Homo sapiens: one gene and its partner. The protein of the gene in region 2 interacts with the protein of the main gene of each other region in a biochemical or structural test. Each region holds a gene or a part of one and is shown on either strand. Other genes may lie near its edges.

Region 1 (4,761 bases), on a different chromosome or scaffold from region 2:
CTTAATGCTGACAAAACAAAATCTTAGGAAACACCAGGGAGTGGTTATAAAACACAAAGCAATTTCAAAACAAGAGTGATAAGAAAGGATGGCTAAGGGCCAAAGTGGCTGCCACTAAAGCCCCTGAACCTAGGGAATTCCATTCGGATCTCTTGGAGGGCAGGAAGTCAGAGCTGGACTTTCCCAGGATTTGGGATGGCTAACCAGACAGACAGACGCCCTGGGTGTGTACCTGCAGCAGAGTGCCTCCTCTTTTTTCCTCTCCCAGAACCACCCAAATACACAAGGTGAATGAACTTTTCTTTGTGATTCTTATTTTTAAAGTTCTTCAAGGGGAAAAAAATTCACAAAATACATATCATAAGCATTTCCTGTAAACCAGTTTCTGTCAGGTCTTTACTCCAGCTTGTGGGGGTCTCCCTTGGTGGCAGAGCTCTGGATTTGTCTGCCACTCACTAGATAAGGGCCAGACCCAGATGGGTCACTGAATGGTGCCTTGGCTTCAACTGAAGAACTCTAGACATACCAAACCAGACCAGAAAATAGCCTTTAATTTTACATGTACAAATGCTGCTGTAAATTCGTAACAGCGAAGAAAAATATATACGAACCGGTTTAAAAGGAAAAGTAAAAAACAATCCACAGTTGAGCAGTTGATGTGCAAATCATCCCAGGAATCCAACTTTCTGTCTCTTGGGCCCCAGGCTTTCTTCCTTGTGCACAACACTCTGCAAGGAGGCATGCAGTACCTTGCCCACACGCTTGCCAGTCTGTGGAGAAGGGACGGGAGAGAGCACACACCCCCTTGTAAGGCACACACACTCTGACCAGAAAAGCATTCCTTTCTGCCAGCTAGTCTTTCTGACATTGTACACATTCCATCTGCCTTAGAGGACTTTTATTTAATTAAAGCAAATTAAAACAAAAACCACAGACCCCAACAACATAATAAATTTTGTAAAAATCGTCATATCAAAAAAATAAAAAAGAGAGACAAACACCAGCCCCCACCAGGCAACAAACAGAGAGCAGCAAAGCCTGCCCTGGCCATTAGCTCATGCTTCACTATCCTGCTGCCACTGCAACAAGCAACAAAGTTGTCAATCAAATCTGGGCTTGGGTACAGCCAGGTGACACTGTACTATAGGGAGACCACAGGGAATCCAGAGTCTGTCTGGAGAAGAAACAGATGATGCCAAGGACATTTTAGTAAGCAGCTTCTCATTCACCTCCCATGAAGCCTCTAAGCAGAACTGCTCAGGTGTGACCAAAGTCAGTACCTGGATGGGATCTTTGGTGTTTACTGCCATGCTGAGATGCTAAAGGCAGTGAAATGTTAGAATCGAAACACATCAAGAGGGACAACCCACAAAATTAATAATCAGTCCCTACAGAGCAGACACGAGAGGTAAAAAAAACAAAAACAAAAACAAAACAAAACAAAAAAACTCAATATGGCTGGGAGTAGTGGCTCATGCTTGTAATCCCAGCACTTTTGGAGGCCAAGGCAAGAGGATTTTGCTTGAGGCCAGGAGATCAAGACCAGACTGGGCAACAGAGTGAAACCCCATCTCTACAAAAAACTAAAAATTAGCTGTGCATGGTGGTATGCGCCTGTAGACCCAGCTACTCAGGGGGCTGAGATGGGAGGATTGTTTGAGCCCAGGAGTTCACGGCTGCAGTGAGCTGTGACTGTGCCACTGTACTCCAGCCTGGATAACAGAGCAAGACCCTGTCTCAAAAAACAACCACCACCCCAATATAAAAAAATATATTTTTCTTTATGAAACTGTTATTCTGTCTCTGGGCCCAAGAATCATTTTAAGAATACAAAGAACCAACCACAAATCTCTACCTTATCAGGTCTTTCACATTCCCATAGCAGTGTGGATTCAACTCTGCCACTGGTTCCATTCTCAACAATGTTGAGATAAAAACATCCATGCCTAAATCCCTGCCTCAATCTCTTCAGTTACAGGTGTATCCTCCCCAGAGTAATGACTTGTGTGTCTTCTCCCCTGGCCCCTAACTGTAACATGGGATGAGATCCCAAGTATGACTAAAACTCTTATGAAAAGATGATTTCGATCTAAAAGGCTGGGAAGTGATCACCTCTATGAAATGCAAAGTCAGGGTTAAAGGTCAAAAAGGCCTTCGGGGGCTGGATGTGGTGGCTGATGCCTGTAATCTCAACACTTTGGGAGGCTGAGGCAGGCAGATCACAAGGTCAGGAGTTCAAGACCAGCCTGGCAAACATACTGAAACCCCGTCTCTACTAAAAATACAAAAAAATTAACTGGGAGTGGTGGCGGGCACCTGCAATCCCAGCTACTCGGGAAGCTGAGGCAGAATCACTTGAACCAGGGAGGCGGAGGTTGCAGTGAGCTGAGATCGCACCACTGCACTCCAGCCTGGGCGATAGTGTGAGACTCCATCTCAAAAAAAAAAAGGGCCTTTGGAAAGATTTTCCCATAACATTAGAAAAAGAAAAAAAAGTCTGAATCTGTCAAACAGGGGTACTGATTATTCATATACATGAGGGTGGGGAGAGAGGACAACAAGAGGAGATGAGATGGACAGGATGCCAGGACTTGAGAGGGCCTTGACGCCTCTGAATCCAGATGCAGGAAAGCAACTGCAGAGGCTAGGGGTGGCAGCCTGCACAACTACCCCCAAGGCTCTCAGCTCCACCAAGTCATTTTCCAGATTGCTGCATCCCTGTGTGAGATAAACAGTAAGACAGGGCCACAGAGCTATAGTCCCCTGTCCAGAGTTAGCAGACCTCACTCCCCAAACCTGAGGGGAGGACAAAGCTCAGCTCACTGAACAGAGCTCTGGTTCTGCCATCTATGACAGCCAGGGCAGATCTGGTTTATAAGGCTGACATTGCACAGTGGCTGGGAGCAGGGGCTCTGGACGCACACAGTCTTGGCTTAAATCCTAGCTCCAGTATTTATGAGCAGGGAGGCCTGTAGGCAAGCTGCTTATCCTCTGTGTGCCTCAGTTTCCTCATCTGTAAAAATGAGGACAATAATAATAGTTACCTCACAGGTTGTTGAGGACTAAATGATATATTTAAAGCAGTGAAAACAGTATCTGGCACATAGTACGCACACAATAAACTCCAGCTATTTGTTTACTGTGCTTGTTGTTGCTGTTTAAAGAAATTCTCATAAACTCTCCTGGGAGGGGGAAGAGTACCTTCTAAAACAAGGTTTGACAGTCCCTTGCCTAGAGGACTTTGGTAGAATTTATGCAGCATTAAGTCTGGAGAAATTTGAACTCAGGGTGCTTCATGGAGCACAGAGAATAAGAGCTGCCATTAGCTGAGAACTGATGACATATCAGGCACTGTGACATGTGCTTCTCCTCTACACCTCACATCATCCTAATAACAACCTCAGCAGTGTCTGGGCAGATATTACTATTATCAGTCCCACTTTGCAGATGAGGGGGACTATGGCCCAGAGCCAGGTTTGCAGCCAGGGCAGTACACCCTCACAGCCCATGGTTGGGAACTCCATGCTATATACAGTGCTCATTTTGGCCTTTTAAATAACATGATAAAGAGAGAAAGTAGATGTCATGTTCTTGGATTCTTCAGTATGAAGTCATTGTTTCTAAACACAAAAGAAGAGTGCTTGCTATTAAGCAATGATCTCTGGGCATGTGTGGTGATATAGAGGTTGCAAGAAAGTATGAATAATCAGATCCTGCTAACTCTGTTCCTGGAAGTTCAGTCAGTCAATCAGTCAGAAAGGTGAGGTGGATATAGGGGAAAGAAGGTCTGGGAAACAGGTGAGCAGGACCCTGTCCCTGCCCTGCGGGGCTTCCAGGCCAGTGAGGTGACAGACATGTGGGGCAAACAGTACAGAGAACTGTAGAAGCGCCTTGATGGCTCTGCTAGGGATGAGGGCAACCCAACCCAACTCCAGTGGGTCAGATTTCTTACCATCCCTGCTTGTCTCCATTTAAACACTTCTAGAGCTGTAACGAATTTGGGAGACAGCCACAGTTCAGCCCGTGCTTCCACCTTTACTCACCCACTTCTAGGGACAGGAAGCAGTGAGCCAAGAATTCTATTCCCTCATCAAGTCACAAAGGCCTGCACTTTTGGAGTTACGAGTGGCTCTTTACATTATGAAAGTCCAACAGTCTTATTTAGACACATAGAAATGAGATGGGGGGTACTTACTGAGGACAATTAATGGTTACTGGTAGGCTCCTTACCTCCCAGTCCAGAGTATCCACCCCCACAACCCCCCTTGATTAGGTCAGCAGACCCCTGGCTCAAACCAGCTGTTCCCAAATCTCCAAGTTTGGGGTCAAGGCTGTGAATGGGGAGAATCCCCACGGTATGACCAAGGGAGCAGGAAGCAGCAGGCACCCCGGCCAGGTCCCTGCACCTTCCTCAGAACTAAGGCCTCACCTCCATCATCTCGAAGATGCTCTCTGGGTCCAGGCTGCCCTTCCCCACTTTCCTCATGCACGTCACAACTCCCTTGCTGGTCACCGACACCAGCAAGCTGGCCAGCGAGCAGGCCTCCTCCTGAAGAGTAGCATCCACCACATGCCGATAGCCAATCTGCAAAGGCAGGGTGCGTGGCACACGGTGGGTCACGCAGGCCCCAGAGTCCCACCCCTGATGGCCTCGTGGTGGGAATCTCTACACCAGGCAAAAGTATTTGCACTGGTCATTCCAGGTCTTATTTTAGATTCTGCTCACGAGGAAAACAGCTGAGGGATTGTTCAACAATTCTC
Region 2 (7,033 bases):
CATGTTAAATGAGTATATGAAAATTGCTTGGCACATGGTATACACCCAACGGATCAGTTATTTTTGTCTCCCCAGTACATCTGTGCCCTTTCTTCTTTAAATCTATGGTTTTATTTATTTACAAAATAGGAATATTTTGCAGATAGCATATCATTAGCTTTGCAGTTTGAGTCTACATTTTAAAGATAAAAACCTATTTTCATTTACTGTAATAATCACAACCTTTGTCTTCATTTAATTTTCTTGTTTCCTTTCCATCTTTTGCTGTACAGACTTAGTTTCTTTGCTTTTTTTTTTTTTTTTTTTGCATTGATATGAATAGTTTCACTAATTCCATTCATGGTTACTGTAAACATTCTTAAAACTTTGTTTTATGGGATTATCAGAGTAACAAAATAATGTAGTCCCTTTATGGACTATAAGTAACTTAATGCTTTTCTTTCCCTATTTCATATCCCCATATTTGGTGCAATAATTTAATTCACTTACTTCATTATTTTGTTTTGCATTGTATTTTACACCTACATTTACACTATTAACTTATTTGTACATACTTAAATGGTTTCAGTGTGAAAAAGCAGCTTCTGACCTAGCATTCACACTAGGCGGTGGCGTTCTCCTGCTGAACATTTAACAATTCTCAAATCTCTAACATCAGATGAGGTCACTGTAATCCGGATAAAATGAGATACTGTAATCATGCCTGAGCACAGATAAAAACAAAGTCACTGTGCAAACCATAAACAGCCAACCTCTTCTTGTGGCTAACATGGGTGACTGTTGCTTCTTTCCTTTCCTCCCACCCACAACATAAAAATTAAGATACCCAGTTGCAAAATCACTCCCACTTTCTGACAGCACTCAATCCACTTTCTGACAGCACTCAATCCAGAAGAAACCCTTGCTCACTTGAGCCCTCCTTAAAATTAGCTACATGTGCTCAAATTCTTAGCAAGCCCCTCCTTACACCTTCCCACTGAGAAGCACCCATAGACCCCAGTGGTGTGCAGTCTCTCTTGCTGCAGCAAGCATCAATAAAACTAATTTTGATTATAATTATGCCCTGGTGATCTTTGATGACATCAACAAATGATGAGCATCAACAAATGTTTGCCGCAGAATTTTCTACCATCACCTACCCTCCAATCTTAAAGTTTTGAATTATCTCTTTATGATACCCTGTCCCCTGGTTGGACTATCAGCCCTATTAAGACTCAAGCCCCAGAGCTTTCTCTTGTGCCTGGAATATGGCAGGATCATAATTAGACGAGGAAAGGATGAATGTTTTTCTACTTACATATTTCTATAAATATTTTAGAGGGAAATTAGAAGATGATTCAGTAGTTTGTATTGGGCCTACTTGTCTTGATTTTTTGAAAACTGTATAATTTTGAATAACTTCTATATATCAGGATCTGTAATTGTTATTTTTATATCAATAAAAAAAACCTCTAATACTTCTATTGAAAAATATTGATTACATAACAACATGAAAATAACTTGGCTAACGCTCACAACTATGTAAAAAAATGCATTGGAGAGACAGAAAAGAAATACATGAAAACATTGGCAGCAGTTACCTTTAGGTGACAGAACTGTGGGTTAATTTTATTCTTCCCTATATTTTCTGTATTTTCCAAATTTTCTGAAGTCACTATGATTGCATTTTAACAATGGTTAAAACTATTGATTTGCATACTCATGGGAGAAAAACAGCTATGCCTAGAAACTGGCCTCTAAAACATTTCTCACAGTAGAGAGGCTCAATTGTCATGAATGTGTGAATAATACTAACAAGTCAAAACATAGTTCTGTAATGTGTTCAAGCCACATTATCCTAGAGGTTAACTGCTCAGAAGAATCTCACAAAGAGTCAAAGTCAGAGGACAAAGCCATTAGTGTGAAGAAACAGTAAAATCATAAAAAAGAAGACAGTCAGGACAAGAAATACCTGAAGCAAAATGACACAAAATGGATGTACTATAAATTATGGATGAAAGTAACAGGGTAGGAAATCAGAGCATAACCAAGCTTGGGCATGTCTGCTTTACCTCTTTGTCACTTAATCAACTCGAGCCTTCCACTGCCAACAGTCTTCTTACACAGTGGATCCTCGAAATAATATCACCACTCCTTTCAACCACAATCAATCATCAATAAAATGCAAATAAAAAGATTGTACTTAAACACTATTGGAGAAGGAAGGAATGAATAAATGCATTCATTTCTACTACTATTTGTTTATGCTAAACTGTAAACTAAAATTCTTAATTCGATCACAGTCTTATATAATATACAGAGTGGATGGTTTCTTGTTTTTACTCCCCCTACCTTAAACCCCAATCCATTTCCCCTTCCTAACAGCACCCTGAATTTCCAACCCTCACACAACTGTTAGCTACATGCTTTGTGTGATATTAACTTCACACTCAAACACAGGATATCCTAGGGAAGTATTAATAAATAAAATTCAATCATAGTCAATGATGAGATGTTTCTAGGACTTCTGGAGAAGATATGCTCTTTTAGTCTGTCCTTGCCCTGGATGGGAGATCTGAGGATGTAAGTGTGGAATTATCACATCTTGTCAAGAACCTGGCATTACAGAAGAGGTTTTTTATGGGTGGCAGGGTGACAGGTCTTGCTCTGTCACCCAGGCTGGACTGCAGTGATGTGATCATGGCTCACTGCAGCCTCGACCTCCTGGGCTCAAGTGATCTTCCCACCCCAGCCTCCTGAGAAGCTGGGACTACAGGCATGTGGCACCACACCCAGCTGATCTGTTTTTAAATTTTTTCTGTAGAGACATGGTCTCACTATATTGCCTTAGCTGGTCTCAAACTCCTGGGCTCACGCTATCCTCCCGACTCAGCCTCCCAAAGTGTTTTGATTACAGGTGTGAGCCACCGCGCCCGGCCGAGAGTTCTATATAGAGTTTGAGAGCAAAACCAGCACCAGGGAAGGCAGAGTGGAGATGAGTCCTTGCTAACATTGTGTGAGCTGCTCGATCTAAATGGAATCAAAGCTAGAGCTACCTCTAATTTTCTCAGTTATGTCATTCAAAAATTTTTCTTTCTGCTTCAGTCACTTGAAGTTAGATTTCTGTCACATATATCTGTTAAATTCTTGATTAATATTAATATTTAAATAAAACTTTCTTAACTCAGTGAATCTGAAGTGACAACTACACATGTATTTTGGTAAAGCAATATACCAAGTGTGTTCACTTGGTAATCATTCACTAAGCAACACATGTATAATCTGCCTACTTTACCATACAGATGTTATTGCTTATGTTCAAAATGTCAGGTTCACGAAAAGGTGCAGGGAGAAGAAATGCTGTTGTATATGTTAAGCCATCGATATACAAATCACGCTGCTAATAAAAAAAAAAGCTTATCATAAACAGTCTATCAGATCAGAGTTCCAGGTTCAGCTGAGGTCAAAATCTACTCTAAAGCTCCTTGCACCCAGAAGGCACCTCAACGAATACCTGTTGTTAAATAAATAAACCTTGGGGTTTGTTGTTGAAACTTTAAAGAAAAACATGACTCTTACTTACTCACAGGGGACTTATAATCTATAAGGTAAGCAAGATAAAGAAAGGGCCATCATAGGTATAATTCTAAAAGTGAGAATGGGAAAAGCAAGTTATGGTTAAAAAAATGAATGAGATGAAATTGGATCTGCCATTAGGATAAAAAAGAATTCATGTGACAGAGCTAGGAAACTCTTAGGTGAAAAAGATCCCACAAAACCCCTAAATCATATTTACTGTTAGTGGCAGAGAATCTCATAAATGTCTAAAGAACAAAACACAGTTTGTATTATGCTCAAACTAAGGCATTTTATTAGCTGGCTTTACAACTTAAATAATATCTTGGCTTTCAAAGGAACAGCTTCCACTAATTCCAAATTAAACTTTCACAAGTTTACTTGTTTGGGGAGGGACATTCTTATGGTCACCACAAAATACTTTTATTATAACCTTCCCCAAATCTTTTCTTAGCATTAACTGGAAAAAAAAAAAAAAAAAAAGCTTAGGTCAAATATCAACTGCCTGAAAAACCCAATTAAGTTACTTTTCCTTAAAACATGTGCAGTATAATTGAATCAAAAGAGAAAACTGCAAATACATTGTGCTTTGGCCAGAAGTAGAGTTCATTTCATGATGATTCAGTATCTTCAGATACTATTTTTGACACTTGCCATAAATCTTAGCAAAGTAAATCCATTTATTAACGTTTCAAAGGCAAAGTTGTTTTTAACATTAGACTTTCTTTGCCAGTTGGCAACTTAGAATTTTTGCAGAGGTGATTATTAATACTTCTTTGCAGCTAATTTTAGCTTTAATTTTTCTCTCTCATCTAAAAACATATCAATTGCACATTGTTCCTTTGACTTAATAACTGCATTCTTGAAACAGAGGTTAGCTATTTCACTGTATCCAGAAACGTGGTAGAAATTCTGACCCATCATTCTTTTATCTGTTAAAACAAAAAAAAAAAAGACATTTGCTGTAATTTAATCAATCACATTATAAGAACAACAAAGGGAAAATTATGGTGAAAGAATTATTATATCAAGAGAAAATCTTTTTCTTTGTCCTGCAACTTTCTTCCTTTCCTAGTCATGCCATTTCTGCAATTTACTATAATCTCTCCATTATTCTCCACAAATGACTCTATCTTATTTTTAGAATGCTCTTTTAGAAAGAATGCCTTGATAGATTAAATGTGATATTGATGGCAACGATATCAGCTACCAATATTGGATGCTTTTTATGTGCTGAGTGCTTTGCACGTTATCATTTCATTTCAACACAACTCTAGGAGGTAGATTCTATTATCCTATTTTTACACTGAAGGAGGTAAATTGAAGGAGAAATGCATTTATGCCGCTAAAAACTGGTGGAGCAAGAACACAAATGGGCAGTGTAACTCTGAAAGCTGTTTTCTTCACCTCCACCCCACACCGCCTTCCATATGTATTTTACTTAAATTATGTATATAGAGTTTCTTGGTGCTTTAGCAACTTAAAAGAAAGATTTTTCATGATATGTGTAACTCACTTTTGATGCAACTTAAAGTTTATGTTATATCCAATTAAATAAACTAGTTTTAGGCAGAAAACAATCATGTGGAGTAATGAAGTACCCTTTAAAATACAATATTCATAAGATTCATATTAATTATGATAGTGTAGAAGAAATTAAATCATTGAAATTTTCTGGTTCATTTCTGGCTGTTTTCTCCAGCAATTAGAATTTAATATAAATTCTAATTTCTTGTTCTAGTAGCATAACTGTGTTTCCTTTAAGGCATAAAATCTCACTGAAGATTTTACCAATCTTCCAAATATAACCCTATCCCTTAAAGGACCACTACAACCTAAAATGAGTAAGGCTTCTCCTAATCAATGCTTTTTCTTTCATTCCCTCAATGCTTTCTTTTCATTCCTAAAAGGTAAAAAAGAAAAGGCATCATAACTATGGATATATAATGAGTCACTTTAAAATAAAATACCTCAGTGACAACACCAGCAGCTATTGTAGAACCACCGTAACGTAGCATGAACCTCCCCAGCTCTTTAAAGTCTTTATATAGCTCAAGAGCTATTGGTCTTTGTGTCTGTAGCTCTACCAATGCATTCTGGCCTTTAGTCAAAAACCTATTAAGAAAAAAAAAGAACAAATGAATATATGATAGAGGTGAATAAATGTAATAATAACAACTTGAAAAACAAATATTTCACATTTAACCAACATATCAACTGAGTCTTTCAAAAACAAGAAAAATATTTTTTGAATGAAAATATATGTCTTTGGACTTTCTGCTTTAGTTGAAAGAAATGAGGAGTAATTCTAGATTTAAGAAACATTAGGTAGTTCATTTTTACCAATCTTCCAAATATAACTCTATCCCTTACGGGACCACTATAGCCTAAAATGCTTAAGGCCCCTCATCATGAAATAAATGCTTTTTCTTTCATTCCCTCAAGAAAGTGAGTTCAATTATCTAATAAAGAAAGTTATACTAAGGCTTATTTCTATAAAAAAGTATTTGCAAAGAGGAATATAATGCCCTATGTCTTTCCTAGTAAAACTGTAATTTATGGAATGTGTATTAGGAAGTTATCTGTGAAGAGGACAATCAATCTGTTGTTGCTAAGATTCCCCTCAATCAATCAAGCAATCTCTCTCTTTCCCCACACAGGAATAATAGTTCCTTAGCAGGAGTTCAGGACAAAAATCACATAAGTAGCTTTTCCACAATATGATACTTGTAAAATATGAAGGAAGACAGGGCATGGACCAGACTGTAAATGATTTCATAAAAATAAGTGAACAAAAATCTCTAGGCTAGGCCCTGCTCAGACTTAGTGAGAGAGGCAGAACCTAAAAAGGGACATTTTGGAATTGTTTTCTAATTTAATTTTTATGTACTCTAGAAGTATAGTGGACAGAAATCATAAACTCTCCTTTTGAAAGATAAGTTCAGGGGCAGACGACTAAAAGAAGGTTCTAAAAAAATACACCAAAAATTCCAAATATTGGTTTTGGACAATTTCAGGCTTAAGTTCATTCCTTAGGAAGGAGAGCATCTAATACATAAATGGCTTGTTCCTAATTTAGTTTCTAGAACATTAAATTCCATTCTGCATAAAGCAATCAAGAGCCTACAACGTGCCTGAACAGGAATGAAAGGGAAAGGCCAAACGGTTGTGCAAAATAAAAGGATAAAGCTACAAATAAGATGACAGGGAACACAAACACGAGAATATGTTAAACTCTACCATCATTGAGCTAGGATTTTGTAGCAGGAGCATGGAGGGGAAGACTCAGGATTATATATGATGAGCCAATTTCAGACTGAAAATTCTGTATCAGTTGTCTAGGTCAAACAACCTGGCTCCTGAACAAAAGAATATAATTTATGTAAACCAACTGACTAGGTTAGAATCCTGCCTCTACCACTTGAGCTTTGTGTCACTTGCTAGATGCTTCACAGGATTGCTAAGAATATACATTATG

The links. The genes of interacting proteins can lie anywhere in the genome.
Region 1: the proteins of HBS1L (region 2) and EXOSC7 form a complex in vitro, tested with the Homo sapiens proteins (one study listed by BioGRID).

What each region holds. Positions count from the first base shown.
Region 1 is NC_000003.12:45,007,244-45,012,004, reverse strand, and holds the end of EXOSC7 (exosome complex component RRP42), read right to left. Parts: intron 4,586-4,761; coding exon 4,430-4,585; intron 771-4,429; coding exon 666-770; 3' UTR 534-665; downstream 1-533. UniProt on the Homo sapiens protein: Non-catalytic component of the RNA exosome complex which has 3'->5' exoribonuclease activity and participates in a multitude of cellular RNA processing and degradation events.
Region 2 is NC_000006.12:134,960,804-134,967,836, forward strand, and holds part of HBS1L (HBS1-like protein), read right to left. Parts: intron 5,671-7,033; coding exon 5,526-5,670; exon of another isoform or gene 5,523-5,525; intron 4,488-5,522; coding exon 4,476-4,487; 3' UTR 1-4,475. UniProt on the Homo sapiens protein: GTPase component of the Pelota-HBS1L complex, a complex that recognizes stalled ribosomes and triggers the No-Go Decay (NGD) pathway.